Homo sapiens: one gene and its partner. The protein of the gene in region 2 purifies or fractionates together with the protein of the main gene of each other region. This does not show direct contact. Each region holds a gene or a part of one and is shown on either strand. Other genes may lie near its edges.

Region 1 (3,500 bases), on a different chromosome or scaffold from region 2:
ATTGACCATCCTCTGTCCTCCCCACCTCCACCCTCCCTTCCCCAGACTCTAGTAACCGCTGTTCTATTCACTACTTCTATGAGATCAACATTTTTTACATTCCACACATGAATGAGATCATGCTATATATGTCTGTCTGTGCCTGGCTTATTTCACTTAACATAATGTCCTCTAGGTTAATCCTGTAGTCTTAAAATGTATTTGTTTACAACCAGAGTGAAAAGTGTAGACTTTCCACTTAATAAAACACTGTCAAGCCGGGAGTGGTGGTTCACGCCTGTAATCCCAGCACTTTGGGAGGCCTAGGCAGGTGGATCACTTGAGGTCAGGAGTTTGAGACCAGCCTGGCCAACATGGTGAAACCCCATCTCTACTAAAAATACAAAAATTAGCGGGGGGTGGTGGTGGAAACCTGTAATCCCAGCTACTCGGGAGGCTGAGACAGGAGAATTGCTTGAACCGGGGAGGCGGTGGTTGCAGTGAGCTGAGATCGCGCCACTGCACTCCAGCCTGGGCGACAGAGCAAGACTCCATTTCAAAACAAACAAACAAACAAAAACATACATTATCAACATCTTTCCCTTTACATTTTCCTAAACATAGAACTGTGTGTTTTTATTTCACCCTCATTAGAGCTGTTTAGTCTTTGGAAGATATTAGTATAGGTGGCTATGGGAACTTTTCATTTAGGGTTCCTAAAGGGATGGGGTCAAAGTAGGTGAGGCCTAAGGTCTTTTCTAGTGCTAACATTCTGTAAACTCTACAGCCAAAAGAGAAGGAAAAATAAAAACCAAATCACTAACACCTCTGATCTCATTATCTTCTGAGAATCATGCTACGTACTTTATATAACCCAGGGAAGCAGTGTACAAAATACCTAACTCAATAAAATCAGTACCTTTATGGCTCTCATCATACAGGTGAGGAAAGGGGACTAAGAAAAATGAGATAGATCCCTCAGATTAAAAAGCTGGTAGAGCCAGGACTCACACCCAGACTGCCTGACTCCAGAGGTGCTACTCTGAAACTTGATGATGGTAGGTCTATTTTGCCTTTCGTGAGACTTACAGAAGATCCAGAGGACAAAAGACTGGGAAGAAAGAGAATATATTCCATTTTCATTAAGGTAAGACAATGAGAAGATTTTTTTCAGGAAGATTTGCTTCATGGAAACAACACATGTGGCTACTTAGGGATGATGCGATTCTGAGTATTTCAGCTGGAATAAATCCAAATTGAAATGAAGCAAATTCCAATCATTGGCATGCGGAATGTGATGTGGGCTTCAAAAAGGTAGAAAAACTAGACCTATGTTAGTGACAGTAATAGGAGAAAGAGGGCCAGGTTTGATGAGTAACCCGGGCAGGTCCAGGCTACAAAACGTATGCAATCTTTTTGGGAATATACAGGACTCACTGTGTCTCAGCTAAAGCTATCCTATGCTGTATTAACTGGCCTAATGTAAGTGGCATATGGGCTAAGGAGTTGCGATAAGGAATCTTACACTGAAAACCACCTGGGACAAATAGAAGATGCCAAATAGACAATGCCAGAAGATTTTTCACTGGGAAACAGACTGCTTTACCTGATAAAATCAGCAATCAAAGATACATTATGAGCCAAAGGCAGATGGCCCACGAAGGTGTCTGAATGCAATGTAGCCAGGAAGTGTGCTTCAGGAAAGGAAAATAAACCATGACAATGCCTTCGAATAAAATGGAGGAAGGTGAAAAGCAGGTTTATACCAACTGCCCAGGGAGTCAGCCAGTCACATGGAGGCAGCAACCTGGATCAACTTCAGGGACCCAGAACAGAAGGGGGGAAATGTAAACAATAAAACCTGTAAACATCTGCCCAATTGAAGAGCCAGAGAAAATGAGCTGGTTTTCAGGAACTCTGCAGAATAGAGATGAACTACAGGAAGTGTACTAAGTATGACAAGGTACAGGCAGGAAGAAAAGAGCAGGAAGAAGGTATCTCCTAACAAGGAAAGGAAAGAGTTGGGTTACTCAGAGGAAAGAGAGGGAGAACTTGTGTGGAAAAGGCAGGAAACAAGTTAATTATAAAGAGATCCCAAAGTGATCTACAAAAGAAAGTGAAACACAAAAGAGGATGAAACTAGACACAAGACAGAGAAAAAAGGAAAGGATAGATGTATGGGAGGGGTGGTCTGGGGAGGAAACAAATGCAGAGGGGGCTAGGTAGCGAAAGAAATCTTTAAAGAGAGCTGCTATGGTCTGAACATTTGTGTCCTCCAAAATTCATAGATTGAAATCTAATCACTAGTATGATTAGGAGGTGGGCCTTTGGGAGGTGATTAGGGTGATTTTTGCCTGATATGGTTTGGATCTGTGTCGCCACCAAATCTCATGTTGAGTTGTAATCCCCAAATGTTGGAGGTGGGGCCTGGAGGGAGGTGATTAGTTCATGAGGGTGGATATATCATGAATGGTTTAGAGTCATCTCCCCTTGGGACTGTCCTCACAATTGTGAGTGAGTTCTTGTGAGATTTGGTTGTTTAAAAGTGTGTAGCACCTTCCCCCTCGTTCTCTCTCTTGCTCCTACTCTGGTCATGTGTTGTGCCTGCTCCCCTTTGCCTTCTGCCATTATTGTAAGTTTTCTGAGGCCTCCCCAGAAGCCAAGCAGATGCCAGCATCATGCTTTCTGTACAGCCTGCAGAACTGTGAGCCAATTAAACCTCTTTCTTTATAAATTACGCAGTCTCGGATTATTTCTTTATAGCAGTGTGAGAATGGACTAATACAGTGCCCTGATAAAAGAGGCCCCAGATAACTGCCTTGTCTCTTCTACCATGTGAGGACACAGCGAGAAGGCTCCATCTATGGACCAGAAAGTGGGCCCTCACCGGTACTGAATCTGCTGGCACTTTGATTGAGGACTTCCCAGCCTTCAGAACTGTGAGAAATAAATTGCTGTTTGTAAGCCACCCAGTTTATAGTATTCTGTTATGGCCACCCAAAGAGACTAACATAAGAGCACTATAAATACTTACAGCTATAATGTAAAATAAATAAAGTAAAAGTTCAAAATAATAATAAGTTAAAGAGATCTAGGCATAGTATATGGAGTGCTGAAGGAATAAAAACTAGAAGAAGAGAAATAATATGTATAATATATACTGAAATCATTGAGCATCACTTTTCTTTTAGAATATATATAAAAATATTCAAGGTGACTGAAAAATATGACTGATTTGTAATCAATGCATAAACATTCAAGTCCTTACTATGCATAAGGTATTAGCAGATACAATCACATAATAAGGCCATTTCTTCAGAGTTTACACACTCTAAGAGAACTCGTAAGCTTTTTTTTTTTGAGACAGAGTCTCACCCTGTCACCCAGGCTGGAGTGCACTGGCGTCATCTCAGCTCACTGCAAGCTCCGCCTCCCGGGTTCATGCCATTCTCCTGCCTCAGCCTCCCGAGTAGCTGGGACTACAGGCACCCGCCACTGCGCCCAGCTAATTTTTTGTATTT
Region 2 (4,222 bases):
CATCGCAGCCTTTTGTTGGGAGATGACACTGTCAGTCAGCCCATGATGTCTGTTCACACGAGATGCTTTTTTAATAGAATTGACCAATGTTTTGCTGCCACTGATTAAAGTATTATTTATACTAATTGTTGCTTGTAGTTTTGATGTAATTCATTGATCTATATTTAAAATAATAAAAGGTGTAGCAAAATCTCCCTCCTGTTTGGTGCCTTAACAGAAGCATTCATCCTTTGTTAAGTCTTCTAAAAGCTAACATTTAACATAAACAAGTTATTATTTTCTGCAATAAATTAGGCACCATTTTTTGGGGGGTGCCTAAAGTGTGAAGGTTAAACCATGTAAGGCTTAGCAATTCTATTATTACCACCTCCTTAATGTACACACACTCCCAGTTGGCCACCATATTTTGTGAGCATTGGGAAGCCTGGGGTTGAATTCAGGGTACAGAGTGTTGGGTGTTAATTTTTTGAAGAAAAAGTAATTGCCCAGGTTAATAGGGGGATCCAGGTTGGCATTCTGCTGGGCCCGGGCCAGGCCCCAGACCTTTTTGGTCTGGAAGCCCTCAGAGGAAGTCTTTGGGAAGTGGTGGATGAGACACCTTACTGGTCCCCCACCCCTAAGGCAGGGAGAGCGTGCTGGGTTCTGGGCCGAGCTGAGGCTCCTGGGTGGCTGCTCTGACCTGACCCCCGGGCCTCCACTCTTGGGCTTCTACTTTTCCAGTACTGTTAAGCTCCTGTGGGGACTCCAGCACCTGCCCCTCCTTCTTCCGCGCCCCCTCCACCCCTCAGGCAACAATAAACACTCCCCACTATAAAAAGTGCCCTGCACTACATTTACCGCAAGGGCTTCTTTACATCTTGGCCTCGCCTTGAAGAAGGGGCCAAGACAGGAGTCCCAAAATAGATGGGGGTGCTTGTTCCAGACAGGAAATGAGCAGAATGCATAAAATCAGACATCTGTCCTTAATATATGGAAGGGCTTGCCCCAGACGCGTGGACATGTGTATTTATAAGTGCGCAGGCAGAAGTTTAAATATTCAGACACATTTTATGATTGTCCTCTGCCCGTCTTCTGCTTAATGGCTCCTCCCGTGCCCACCAATACATCAATACCGTTGTGTGTATTGAATCGCGGGCAGGGATGAGGAGGAAGCGAGTCCATAGCAGAGCCCGCTGAGTATAGAGTACAGTAAATCGGGACCCTCGGCGGACGGCGCTTCCCGCCCGCCTGCCCGCCATGTTGGGGAGCCCTCCCTGCCCCCCGCGCCGGGCTGGGCGGCCGGGGCTCGCTGGCAGCCGGGGGAGGGCCTTTCATAACCCGGAGAATTTTCTAAGTGCGAGGAAGATGATAAGAATAGATTTCTACAAGTCCCGACCACGTGATTGGCGAAATAATTAATTCAGCACGTCCCTTAAGAAACACGGAGTCGTCATTAATCTGCCACGCAAAGGGCTCTCTCCGACTTGGAAAGTGCAGGGATCCCAAGAATATCACCCGTCCAGGGGGGCCGCGCGGTGCCCCCGGCCCTCCACCCCCGGCCCCCGGCGGGCGCGGGAGCGCGGCCGCAGGTAAATATTTTGGCAACTTTTATTTCATCAGATTTAAATCCTTAATGAACTTAGCTGTCACGGCCGCTGACAAATAGTTCCCTTTGCTTCCTGATTTGGAACTGCGCGCCGGCGAGAAGTTGTTAGTGGCTTGGATGGTGACCTTTGGTTCAGCAAAGCTTTGCACTTATGAAAAATTACTGAGAGCGGCCGAGTGTGTGTGTGTGTGCGTGCGTCCGCGCGCGCGCTTGTGTGTGTGAGAGAGGGAGAGACAGAGACAGAGACAGAGATAGGGAGAGGGTGTGTGTGCGAGGCGCTAGGGTGCCAGGGGGCGAGGGGTGAGGGGCGAGGTGCACGCGGGCTGCTCCAAGACAACAGGAGTTGTAAAAAACCGGCCCGGCTGGCGGACGCGCCTGGCGCACGCGGGCCGAGGTTGCCTGGTCGCCTGTGTCTACCAGGAACAATGGTCGCTGTCACGGCATCTGCCGCCTATTCTTAAACCGGTGAGAAAAGGCCCTGGCCCTCTTTTCAAGCGAGGGTCGTAAATTTTTCTTTGCGTCATAATAGAAGGCTATAAAATCGAGTTGAAATTTTACCCCAGGCAGGTTTTAACCAACAGATAATGATTTCCGAGTTGCCTCTCCCCCCGCTCCTCTCTCCCCACCCAAGTTCTGCTGCCTCTGTCACCCCAGCGAGTTTCTTCTTCTTTCCCGTTTATTTTTGTGTTTGTATTTTTTATTTCTATTTTGGAAGAGCTAAAATAAACGCGAGAAGAAGTCCCTGCAGCCCGAGTGGGAGACCCCGGGGCGACGGGAAGCCTGGGGAAAGGAGGATGGGGGAGAGGCCAGTGCGGGCTGCAGAAGGCTGTTTCTCTGCTCGCTCCCGTTTCTGCCTTTTTTCACCGGCACTCCAAGAAAATTGGGTGTCCTAAGAGCCACTCCGCTCCGTTCCACCCCATCCCCAGCTTGCCAGGGTCGTGGGCTGGGGCAGTAGCGAGCATTCTTTTCTTCCAGCTTGCAGCTCCGACCCGGGCGCCTCTTCATTCGCCTCCTTCCCTCTTGTTGCTGTGAGATACCTCCATTGGCTTTCAGAATGATTTCAGCGAGCAGGGGCTGGCTGCGCGTGGTGGTTGTTTTGGGATTATGTGTGCGTGTGTGTTTGTGTGTGTGTGTGTTTTCATTTATTTTTTGGTGTGTGTATATTTCCCCGTCAGGACAGAAACAAAGTTTCCCCCATTATGAATTATACATTCAAACAATAACACATTAATTCAATTATTCAAAGATGACAAATGTTTATGTGCTTTGCGAGTGACTCGGGCGCAGATTCCAGGCGCTTTCTCTGAGCTGCTTGCATTTTTCTCAATGAGAATCGTCTCCCCTCCCACCCCCCCCACTCCAACCCACTCCAACCCACCTAGATATCCCCTTGTAGGCCCAGAGAGGAACCCACAAAAAGCTTCCCCAGCCCTGCTGGCAGCCCGGCAGCCAACAGCCTCCCAAGGCCCCGGCTTGGCGGGCACTGGCCCGGGCTATTTTATCAGTGTGACAATTGCCCGGGTTGGTGTGATAAATCATCGTAAGTAATTCCTGAAAGGGTGCGAGACTGTTGGGGGCCGGGCGAGGACTGTAAATCTTTCCGGTTTATTGCTCTATGAACATATGCTCCGATTGAAGAAGGCTTAGATCCTTTCCTGGAGACAAATTCCCGCAAAGCAGCCCCCCTCTTTGGCTGGGGATTAACACTTGCTGCTGGCCGTCAGGTCGGCCTCTGGCAAGAGGCTAGGGGGCGGGGTCCTCCGGGTGGGGGTGGGCTGGGGTCACCCACGATCCGGCTTCGAGAGACGCCCCGAGTGGGCCTCTGGCCAGGCCCGGCCAGGTGAACAAAAGGATGGGCTCGTAGACGGTTCTGGGGGCTCGGGCCTCCAGGACATTCCTGCGCCTCTGGAGTGGGGATGCGGTGGACCTTACCCACTCCTCTGGGGCTCTTCTATGGCTGCTGGGCACTTTCACCGGTCTCAGACCCTGCAATCAGCAACAGAGCATTTCACTGTGCCTGATGCCGCTGAGCAGAGCTGGCAACGAAACCAAAACTTCGGGGACAGGGTGGAGAGTTCCCCGTGGTGCGGGATTCCCGAGTGTGGCCCCGGCTGGGGGAGGGTCTTGGGCGCTCATTACAGGCCAGGAGGTCCGCTGCTGGCGCTGGCACGCTTAATTCTTTTTTCCCACATTGCAGAATCATTCCCACCAGCCACTCGGAGAGTGGTGGGAATCTGTCTTGGTTTAATATTTCTAAAATATAAGTTTCATTGTCCCCCAGGTTAGCCCAGCCAGGACTCATTGCGCAGTCCTCCTCGCCTTCCTGGAGGCGCCGCAGGAAGCGGGAAGTCGCGGCTTGGCGGTTGCTGGGCCTGTGGGATCTGCGGGTCCTGCCCAGACCTGGAGTCGCACAGATCACGGCGGGCAGTGGCTCAGCGCCTAGGCGGCTCCAGGCCTCGAAGGACCAGGTTGGGGTGCTCAGGGATCAGAGAGGGGAGGTCGCTCTGGGTCCGGGTCGCCTGCTACGCGCCTTTTCTGTCTCAGAAGTGGCGGTGACTCGGCTGCTGAGTCCGCGGAACGAGCCACGGAATGGTGGTGGTGGCGGGGTTTTCTGAGGTGACTGGCCAGAGCTGAGAG

Evidence for each region. Proteins that work in one complex are often made in the same cells at the same time.
Region 1: the proteins of HOXD3 (region 2) and CTH purify together in Homo sapiens (affinity purification with mass spectrometry; one large-scale study listed by BioGRID and IntAct). This does not show direct contact.

What each region holds. Positions count from the first base shown.
Region 1 is NC_000001.11:70,424,768-70,428,267, reverse strand, and holds part of CTH (cystathionine gamma-lyase), read right to left. Parts: intron 1-3,500. UniProt on the Homo sapiens protein: Catalyzes the last step in the trans-sulfuration pathway from L-methionine to L-cysteine in a pyridoxal-5'-phosphate (PLP)-dependent manner, which consists on cleaving the L,L-cystathionine molecule into L-cysteine, ammonia and 2-oxobutanoate.
Region 2 is NC_000002.12:176,155,885-176,160,106, forward strand, and holds the start of HOXD3 (homeobox protein Hox-D3), read left to right. Parts: upstream 1-1,422; 5' UTR 1,423-1,568; intron 1,569-1,583; exon of another isoform or gene 1,584-2,050; intron 2,051-3,366; exon of another isoform or gene 3,367-4,053; intron 4,054-4,222. UniProt on the Homo sapiens protein: Sequence-specific transcription factor which is part of a developmental regulatory system that provides cells with specific positional identities on the anterior-posterior axis.